Homo sapiens: one gene and its partner. The protein of the gene in region 2 interacts with the protein of the main gene of each other region in a pairwise test. Each region holds a gene or a part of one and is shown on either strand. Other genes may lie near its edges.

Region 1 (3,500 bases), on a different chromosome or scaffold from region 2:
CACCTCTATTAATAGTAGAGGCTACTAATGAATACTTCTCATTCTTTTGTTTTTCTATTAATTAATTCATTAACTAAAACTACCATGAGTAACTGGGCCATAGTAGATATTTTTGACTGATTGTGTCAACGAGCAGCTTAATTTCCTATAGCATTTAATTGTCTGTACTTCTTTTCTGCCCTGCCCATTTTCCATTCCTTAATGTGATTATTTATATCCCTCTATTCATGCAGTTAGTTCATTGAACAAATATTTACTGAGTACCTACTACGTGCCTGGTGCTTTTCTAGGTGCTTGGATGCATACAAGAACAAAACCAGATCCCTACTGCTTTAAAGCTGAAACATCTTATTTCCTTGAAGGCCAGATCTGCTGCGTCCCCACTTGGTGAATTTCTGCCCTGTGTCATCAGCCAGGAACCCAGAAGTCATTACTGACACTTCCCTCTCTCTCATCCTGTCAGGGCGTCTCCTCCTCCAGCCTCCCCCTCCCACCTCTTCTCTTCTTGATCTCCTGGGGGTCTCTAGATTTGGGGCAGGAGTTGGGGGATCTTATAGAACTAGTTGGAGGTGGATTCCTGTCGTCAGGGAACACTCTTAACTCACCTATGTAGGGAAAGTGGGCTGAAGGCCCCGGACTCTCTGAACCTAGCTGTTTACATATTACAAATGACTTAAAATATTGAAAACAGCGGCCAGGCGTGGTGGCTCACGCCTGTAATCCCAGCAATTTGGGAGGCCAAGGCGGGTGGATCATGAGGTCAGGAGATCGAGACAATCCTGGCTAACATGGTGAAACCCTGTCTCTACTAAAAATACAAAAAAAATTAGCCGGGTGTGGTGGTGGGTGCCTGTAGTCCCAGCTACTCGGGAGGCTGAGGCAGGAGAATGGCATGAACCCAGGAGACGGAGGTTGCAGTGAGCCAAGATTGAGCCACTGCACTCCAGCCTGGGTGACAGAGTGAGACTCCATCTCAAAAAAAAAAAAAAAAAAAAGAAAAGAGCTTTCTCTTCTCTTCCTTCTTTCCTTCCTTCCTTCTTTCCTTCCTTCCTTCCTTCCTTCCTTCCTTCCTTCCTTCCTTCCTTCATTCCTTCCTTCTTTTTTTTTTTTGAAATGGACTTTCACTCTTATTACCCAGGCTGGAGTGCAATGGCACGTTGTCGGCTCATTGCAACCGCCGCCTCCCAGGTTCGAGTGATTCTCCTGCCTCAGCCTCCCGAGTAGCTGGGATTACAGGCACCTGCAACCATGCCTGGCTAATTTTTATTTTTATTTTTAGTAGAGATGGGGTTTCACCATGTTGCCCAGGCTGGTCTCAAACTCCTGACATCAGTCAATCCACCCACCTTGGCCTCCCAAAGTGCTTGGATTACAGGTGTCAGCCACCCCGCCTAGCCTGTTTTCTTTTTATAAACATAATATGTACTTGCTGTTAAAAATGACAAACTACAGAAAGGCCATGAGGCAAGAGTAAAAAATAGCCCCAAATCCTGCCACTTTGAATTAACTTGTTAACAATTTGACACATTTCCTCCAAGATTTTTTTTCTTAAAAATTTTAGTTATAAAATTTAACATACAAGGAAAGTGCAGAAGATATAAATATATGATTTAATACAGTAGTTCTCAACTGGGGGCAGTTTTTTCCTCAGATGACATTTGCCAATGTCTGGAGACATTTTGGGTTGTTGCCACAGGGGTTGGGGGCACAGGGTGTTTATCTACAGGGTAGAGGCTGAGGATGCTGCTAGACATTCCACAGTGCAAGGGGAGGTCCCCCACACCAACCACAGAGTGATTCAGCCCACATAGTAATCATGCCACGGTTGAGAATAAATATGTGTGTGAAGAGAATAACTATGTAATATCACCCAGGTCAAACAGGTCAAGAAATAGCACCTGGCCAGCCCCATTTCTCCACCAGAAGTAATCCCATCATAGATTTTTTTTTTCCCAAATGTTTGCACATTTGCTGAAAAATAAACCAGGGGGCCGGGTGTGGTGGCTCACGCCTGTAATCCCAGCACTTTGGGAGGCTGAGGTGGGCGGATTGCTTGAGGCCAGGAGTTCCAGGCCAGCCAACAGGGTGAAACCCTGTCTCTACTGAAAAATACAAAAATTAGCCAGGCATGGTGGTGTGTGCCTGTAATCCCAGCTACTTGAGGGGCAGAGGCACAAGAATCGCTTGAACCCAGGAGGTGGAGGCTGCAGTGAGCCGAGATCTCACCACTGCTCTCCAGCCTGGATGACAGAATGAGACTCAGTCTCAAAAACATCAATTAATTAATTAAAAAAAAATCCAGGGTCATTTTTTATGTCAGTAAGTATTCTTCTATAACACCTTTATAAATATCTGCGTAATATTTTCTTATATGGATGCACCATCATTAATTTACTCAACCCCCTACTGATGAATATTTAGGTTATATAAGTGTTTATATTTATATCCAGTGCTTAAATTATACAGTCACTGTGAGGCATATTCTGGTGACTACATCTTTGGCCACATATTTAATTATTTCCTTTGGGTAAATACCAGAAGATGAATTGCTATGTCAGAGGTTATAGACAGATTTAATGCGTTGCTGCATTTCCCAAATTGTTCTTGAAGTCTGTATCAACTTTATCCTCCTGTCAGCCAAGTATGAGGGCTTATTTTTCTAATAATCCTGCTAACACACAGCATTGTCCTGTAAATCTTTGACACTTTCTTTCTTTTTTTTCTTTTTGACAGAGTCTCATTCTGTCGCCCAGGCTGGAGTGGAGTGGCGCGATCTCGGCTCACTGCAAGCTCTGCCTCCCGGGTTCACGCCATTCTCCTGCCTCAGCCTCCCAAGTAGCTGGGACTACAGGCGTCCACCACCACGCCAGGCTAATTTTTTGTATTTTTAGTAGAGACGGGGTTTCACCATGTTAGCCAGGATGGTCTGGATCTCCTGACTTCGTGATCCACCCGCCTTGGCCTCCCAAAGTGCTGGGATTACAGGCGTGAGCCACCGCGCCAAGCCAACACTTTCTTAAGGTTCAAATAGTATTTGTGATACTTCATTGTTATCACCTATTCGTATTTATTCTTACTGAATTACTTTTTCATTTGCCCATGGTGGAGCATGTTTGTCTTTTTCTTCATTAGTTGCAAGTGCTCTTTATGTATTGAGAATGTTACCGTTTTTGTCATAGATGTTTCTAGTATCTTCTCCAGTTCTGTTTGTTTTTCTTTAATTGGCAAGTAAAAATTATATGTAAATATCTTCCCCAGTTCTAATGTAAATATCTTCCCCAGGCCTTCTGAGTTTAAAGACTACTCTTCTTGAAGTGCATTTCACCCTGGCTCCCTCCCTTTTTGGCCACTTCTGTGGTTCCAGCTAGGATTTAGGAAGGTGGGGTGGAGGGTGGTTGACGGGGAGAGGAGCAGTGCTCTGCTGATGATAGGGGAGACAGCTGCCCAGTTCTTGGGGTGTCCAGGCCTGAGAACACCATGGCAGGGCAGGTGTCAGAATG
Region 2 (6,118 bases):
GCCTTCGGTTTCCTCATCTGAAAAGGAGACAGTTCAGCCAAAGAGATGGTTCAGCAGGGTGTTCTTTCTCCCTCATTTGAACGCGATCAGCATGGGTGCCTTTCTGGTCCACTCAACACCTTTGATCTTGTACCACACAGTTCATCTGGGGGAACGTGTCTTCCTCTTCTCAGCCCTACAGACGAATGCCTCTTTGAAGGCAGGGACCAGGCCATCTCCATGTGGAGCACTCTGGAAGTTCTGGGTTCTGTGCCTGACACATAAAAAGTGTCCAGTGATGTCTATATTACTGAAAAATAAATACGTAAGATAGGAGGAATGATCCAGACTAAAAGAAACTGCCAAGATCTCACAGCTGAACACTCTAGGAGTCTGTGACGTTTTCTCCTAGATTCACTTATATTTGTTTGCTGAAGATGAAGAATTCTGATGAAGAGAAGGAAGGAAACAAGGACAGTGTGGAAAGCCAGGCGAGAAGCCATCAGCATTTTAGAGCTTGTATTAGGTCCTAACGTGATATGGGTGCTCTCTTAAGGGAACTAAAAGAAATGTTGAAGGGAATATTTCTTTTCTGTCTCCTGGAGGTGAGTATGGATGTAGTTATATAGATAGATGAGTACATTGGTCACTGCAAAAGGGAAAAAGCAAAATTGCCCCCTATTTCATTTCCACACAGTTCCTCCTGTCAACAGGTCTGGGTGTTGACGTAGGAACTGCAAGTTCCCACGTCCACCCCCGCCACACCCACAGCCTGCCCTGCATACACCACTGCTGGAGATGTAGCCAGGACAGCTTGCCCTGTCCCCTGACCCCACGGACCTTGTTAACACCGCTGCTCCCCTCGGTGATATTTACCTGTCCGTGGCTGTCCTGACCAATACTCCCAAGGAGACAGTGCATCACTGGGCCAACAGGGCAGAGCCCCAGGGGACCACTCCCTTTACGACATGGACGGACACTTTAGGAGTGACGGTTACCCTCTCCTTGGATGAGGAGGGGCTCCAAGGATGGACATGTCAGTCTCACCTGGAGGGAGAGGGGCAGTGGGTGGGGGCAACGCTCAGTGGCTGGTGGACAGGCAAGGGGTGAGTGAGCCCTGCCCAACTGACTCCATTGGCGGCCACTGGCCTTGCCTGGCATTCACGGAACAGGCGCTTCATAAACTTGTTGCTTCAATGTGAAATCACCTCAATTTTGTAAATGCGTCTGTAGCATCCACAGGACTCATCATCTAGAATTCAAACCCTTAAGGGTAAAGGCTGCGTCTTCTGTTTCCTCTGCGTCTTCTCGAAGCACTGTGTGTAAGGGCCAGAGCACAGAGGATGTTTCATACACGTGCCTTTGCCCTGAGACCGCAGCCCTGCCTCCCCGGTCCCACGCAGACCTCATGGAGTGGCCTCCACTTCGGGGCTTGGTACTGCTGTGTACGGAAGGGGCGGTTTCTATGGGAAACATGGACAAACAGTTCTATTTGGAATAAGCAACCACAGGGTGCCCACCCAGCCATCCTCCCAAAGATTTGTCAAGAAAAAAAAAGTAGAACGAGAATGGGCAAAAGCGTCCGACATACTTTACTCTTCTCTTGAGGCTTTATTTTTCCACTCCTGATTTAGAGATGACCACATTTGTTAGACAGCCCCCCCTTGTCCGCCCTTTCTCTGCAGGCCACCACCGTTCCCCCTACCCCATCCCAGCCAGCAGCTGGTCTTTCCTAATTGGTAATCTGTCTTAATAGCCACAGGTCCTCAGGCAGCTGTCGCCGGGAATACGAGCTGGCAGCATAGATCCACGTCACTAACTTAACTGGCTGGTCCTATTAGAGCTTAAGAAAGAATTAAGTTAATAATGATACTAATGAGACAGAACGTTGCATAGGAGAAAATAAGAGAAAGAAGGAGAGGAGTAGAAGGAGGAGAAGGGAGAAGAGGGCAAGGGGGGAGGGGAATTATTGCTATTAATTATTATTATTATTAATTATTCCTGGCACAGGTTTTGCAATCACAACCCAAGGTTGTGATAAAATCTTGCTCAAAATTCAAAAAGGATTTCAACTTTTCACTCTCAGTCTTATTCACTTTTCCATATGATGAGATTTCTAAGTAAGCCACCCGACTTCAGTCCTTGGTGCCCAATAGCTAGGGGCTCACGCCGCGTTCAGGGTGTGATGAGCGCCTGAGAACGGAGGTGGCTGCCCCCGCAACTCCTCCTGGAGTGAGGCCATCCCATCCCATCAGGGGAGGGAGCACCGGCCCCAAGTTCAGAGAAAGGCATCCCAAGCTCCTGACATTCTGCGGTCGGAAAATGGTGATGGATCCTGCTCATTTCTAATTATACCTTTCCCTTGGCAACGACAAAGATACGTGTGGAAGAAGCTGGTTCTCGGCTTGGGGGGGCCACTCATCCTCTTGCCAAATATAGAGAAGGAATGAGCCGCGGGGGTTACCAATGGCCTATAAAAGCCCCGGGGAGCAGCCAGCCCTCTGTGGCTCGCTTGTGGGCGGAGGTAAGTCACAGGCTCCTCTTCTAGGTCTCAGCTGCTTGGAGCACACCCACCCGGTGAGCACATCCACACCCCGTGCGTGGTTCCCTGGCCCTGCCTGGCTCTGCTGAGGTGGCGCCTCATGCCTTTCTGAGTTTTCTTAGGATAAGCAAGGTGTAGAGAGCGAGGTTCCCTGGGCCCAAACACCCAGCACCCTCTGGCTCCAGCACCTCCCCCAAGCAGGAGCCCTGCAGGTTCTCTCTCCTCCACACACTCTCCCCTGTCCTCCTCTCCAAGTGTCCTCTTGGGCAGGATCCTTTTGGATGCCCCGTGAGCCCAGCTGCCATGGCTTGACCTTCTCCCATTGCCTCTGTGACCCATGAAGGGTCAACAGGACTGGGGACCTCACTCTGCCCTCACCTTCCCCACCTGGGCTGTACATCTGCCAGGTGTCTTGTCCTCTCAAGACCACACTGGCTGTGGGCATTGCGTGTAAATTAATCTCAGAGATATTGCCTGTTCACAGACAAGGAGACCTGCCCCTGCCCTCGAACTGTTGACTTTAAGCAGGGATGCGGTCCCTGCTGTCCGATTCTAAATGGGAGTGAGGAAGACTGAAGAAGGTGCCAGTGCAGGCTGAGAGAAACCAGATTTCTGCACAGCTGAGGGTTTTTCCTCCCTGCCTGGCTTCCTGTGGGTCACGTCCCATCTGCTCTTCCATCTTCCAGCCTGCCTCTTTAAAGTATTAGTCTTTTTTTTTTTTTTTTTTTTTTTTGAGACAGAATTTTGCTCTTGTCGCCCAGGCTGGAGTGCAATGGCACAATCTCGGCTCACTGCAACCTCTGTCTCCCAGGTTCAAATGATTCTCCTGCCTAAGCCTCCAGAGTAGCTGGGATCACAGGCATCTGCCGCCACGCCCAGCAATTTTTTAAATTTATTTTTTATTTTTAGTAGAGAAGGGGTTTCACTATGTTGGCCAGACTGGTCTCAAACTCCTGACCTCAGGCCATCTTTCCGCCTCGGCTTCCCAAAGTGCTGGGATTACAGGCGTGAGCCATGGCGCCTGGCCCCTTTATCCTTTTTAGTTAACTCGTCAGAAGCCGATTCTACATGGACGCAGCCACCCCAAGTGCCGCTAAGTTGTGTATGTGCATATTCTTCCAGGTCTGGGATCTCCTGGCTGTTGCTGTCTTCTGCTCTCATCCTGCAGGTGGGACTCTCAGGTGAGAAGTTGGGCCCTGTCCCTCGGCTGTTGGAGATCTCCAGGCAATCCAAGCTTGCCAGTTCCTTTCTCCCTCCTCCCACCGGCCATAAGGGCACAGAGGGACAGGGGAACTAGCACATTTAGACAAGGACAGGTCGTGGCCGGGTGCAATGGCTCACACCTGTAATCCCAGCACTTTGAGAGGCCGAGGTGGGCAGATCATGAGGTCAGGAGTTCAAGACCAGCCTGACCAACATGGTGAAACCCCGTCTCTACTAAAAATAGAAAAATTAGCAGGACGTGGTGGCAAGTGCCTGTAATCCCAGCTACTCAAGAGACTGAGGCAGGAGTATCGCTTGAACCTGGGAGGCAGAAGTTGCAGTTAGTGGAGATCGTGCCACTGCACTCCAGTCTGTGACAGAGTGAGACTCCATCTCAAAAAAAAAAGGCAAGGACAGGTCAGGCGGGAGAGGAGGTGGCATTTGGGGGACTGTCAAACAGATGCTGATGTCAGATGCTTGATTTTGTTCTTAGCAACCCAAGGAAGCAAAAGGCAGGTTCCCGCATACGAGCGTGTAGCCACCTTGATTGAAATGGTTCAAAAATATCTTTGCTGTTTGCCATTAGCACACTCTCTTTGAAGATGGCGTTTATTTTTTAAGGGTGTTTATTTTTAAACGTTCCCTCAGCAACACCTGGTTGTCACAGAAGCGGAAAAGGCGGTCCCAAGAGTGGTGCTCACTTCCAAACCCCTTATCGCCAGTTCAAGCCTCAGATGCTTGAGGAGCTTGGGTTAAATAGGCTGTAAGACTGTCGCACAAGAAGCCCCTCAATAAATATGCACCCGTGTGATTTCCCAGCACTGAAGCCCTTTGGGTGGAGCTTCTCAAGGCATGAGGACAGCCTGGTTCCTGGGGCCCTGACTCTGAGGGCTCCTGCGGCTGAAGGAGGGCAGGGTGGAGGCTGAAACAGGCCTGGAGCTGCTGGGTGCCTGGCAAGGGGGCTGCTGAGCTCACCGGGTGGGTTTGCCTTCCAGCTGACACCATGAGTAGTGACACTGAAATGGAAGTGTTCGGCATAGCTGCTCCTTTCCTCCGGAAGTCAGAAAAGGAGAGGATCGAGGCTCAGAACCAGCCCTTTGATGCCAAGACGTATTGCTTCGTGGTGGACTCAAAGGAAGAATATGCCAAGGGGAAAATCAAGAGTTCTCAGGATGGGAAGGTCACTGTGGAAACTGAGGACAACAGGGTAAGGCTCTGTACCCTCCACAGGCTGCTGGCCCTCCACCTGGTCCTTGTGCTTGCCTGGGGTATGCATCTGCCCAACCCCAGCCACTTCCAGATGTGGTTCCAGCACTGGAATGCCGCATACAATGTAGCCTGGGGCTTCCCAGGTATCCTCAGAGAAAGCAGAGTGAATACTGGCCTCAGGTTCCAGGGTGGGAATAGAGTCTGGCTGTGGCTGATTAAAACAATTAGTTTTCAGGTATTTTTGTCCACGTTCACTGTAGGCCAGAGGGGCCCAGCTCCACGTGTCCCAAGGGTGTGGAGTTGGGAGTTCAACATGAATGAGCGCTGTTTCAGAACACTCTCCTTTGGTAGCCTAGATTTGTCCCAAATTATTCTATCAATGGCCATCTAACCAAGGAAGTAAGGAAAATGTGTTAGGGATCCTAGGGGACCACAAGCTCAGTGAAATAGCAGCCTCCTTGTATCATGAAGGGGATGAGCACTGCAGCCCATTACATTCTGGCCCAAGCCACTGTGGGGGTGCTGCGAGGAATTCTGGAGCTCACTAGTTTCTAAAATCCACATCAGGAGAATCTGGAAAAGTCCCAAGAAAAGTAAAAAGCAAAAAAAGGAAAAAAGAAAGAAAGAGTGAAAGAGAGATGGAGGGAAGGAAGGAAGGAAAGAAAGAAGGAAGAAAGAAAGCAAGGAAGGAAGGAAAGAAAGAAAGAGAAAGAAAGAAAGAAAATAAAAGAGACAAGTAAAGGAAATACTATCATTGGGTTGGGCATGAAGGAAAAAAGGCATTAAAAACCGCCCTGCACGTGAACCCGGGAGGTGGAGCTTGCAGTGAGCCTAGATCACGCCACTGCACTCCAGCCTGGGAGACAGAGCAAGACTCGGTCCCCCCAAAAAATAAGAACCGCCCTGCAGTGCTACCAAGCATTGGAGCTCCGAAAAGGTGGCTCTCTGTGTATTTCCAATAAGGAGCTAAGAATGGGCTGCTAACACGTCAGGGAAGGAGGAAGCTAGATACAGTGAATGATAATCTAAGATGAACCTAAGAGACCATCATAGACAGCCAGGGCCCATTGGCCGGGATGGTTTGAATGAATCCCTGCTTGAAGGCAGGGAAAAGGCAGGTTTCCCATCCACACTGCCCAGAGACAGAACCAGGAAAACTGACCATTTCAGAGGAGGTCACAGAGA

Evidence for each region. Proteins that work in one complex are often made in the same cells at the same time.
Region 1: the proteins of MYH3 (region 2) and DYSF interact in a two-hybrid assay, tested with the Homo sapiens proteins (one large-scale study listed by BioGRID and IntAct).

What each region holds. Positions count from the first base shown.
Region 1 is NC_000002.12:71,469,699-71,473,198, forward strand, and holds part of DYSF (dysferlin), read left to right. Parts: intron 1-3,500. UniProt on the Homo sapiens protein: Key calcium ion sensor involved in the Ca(2+)-triggered synaptic vesicle-plasma membrane fusion.
Region 2 is NC_000017.11:10,653,674-10,659,791, reverse strand, and holds the start of MYH3 (myosin-3), read left to right. Parts: upstream 1-2,482; 5' UTR 2,483-2,503; exon of another isoform or gene 2,504-2,556; intron 2,557-3,643; 5' UTR 3,644-3,702; intron 3,703-4,719; 5' UTR 4,720-4,727; coding exon 4,728-4,931; intron 4,932-6,118. UniProt on the Homo sapiens protein: Muscle contraction.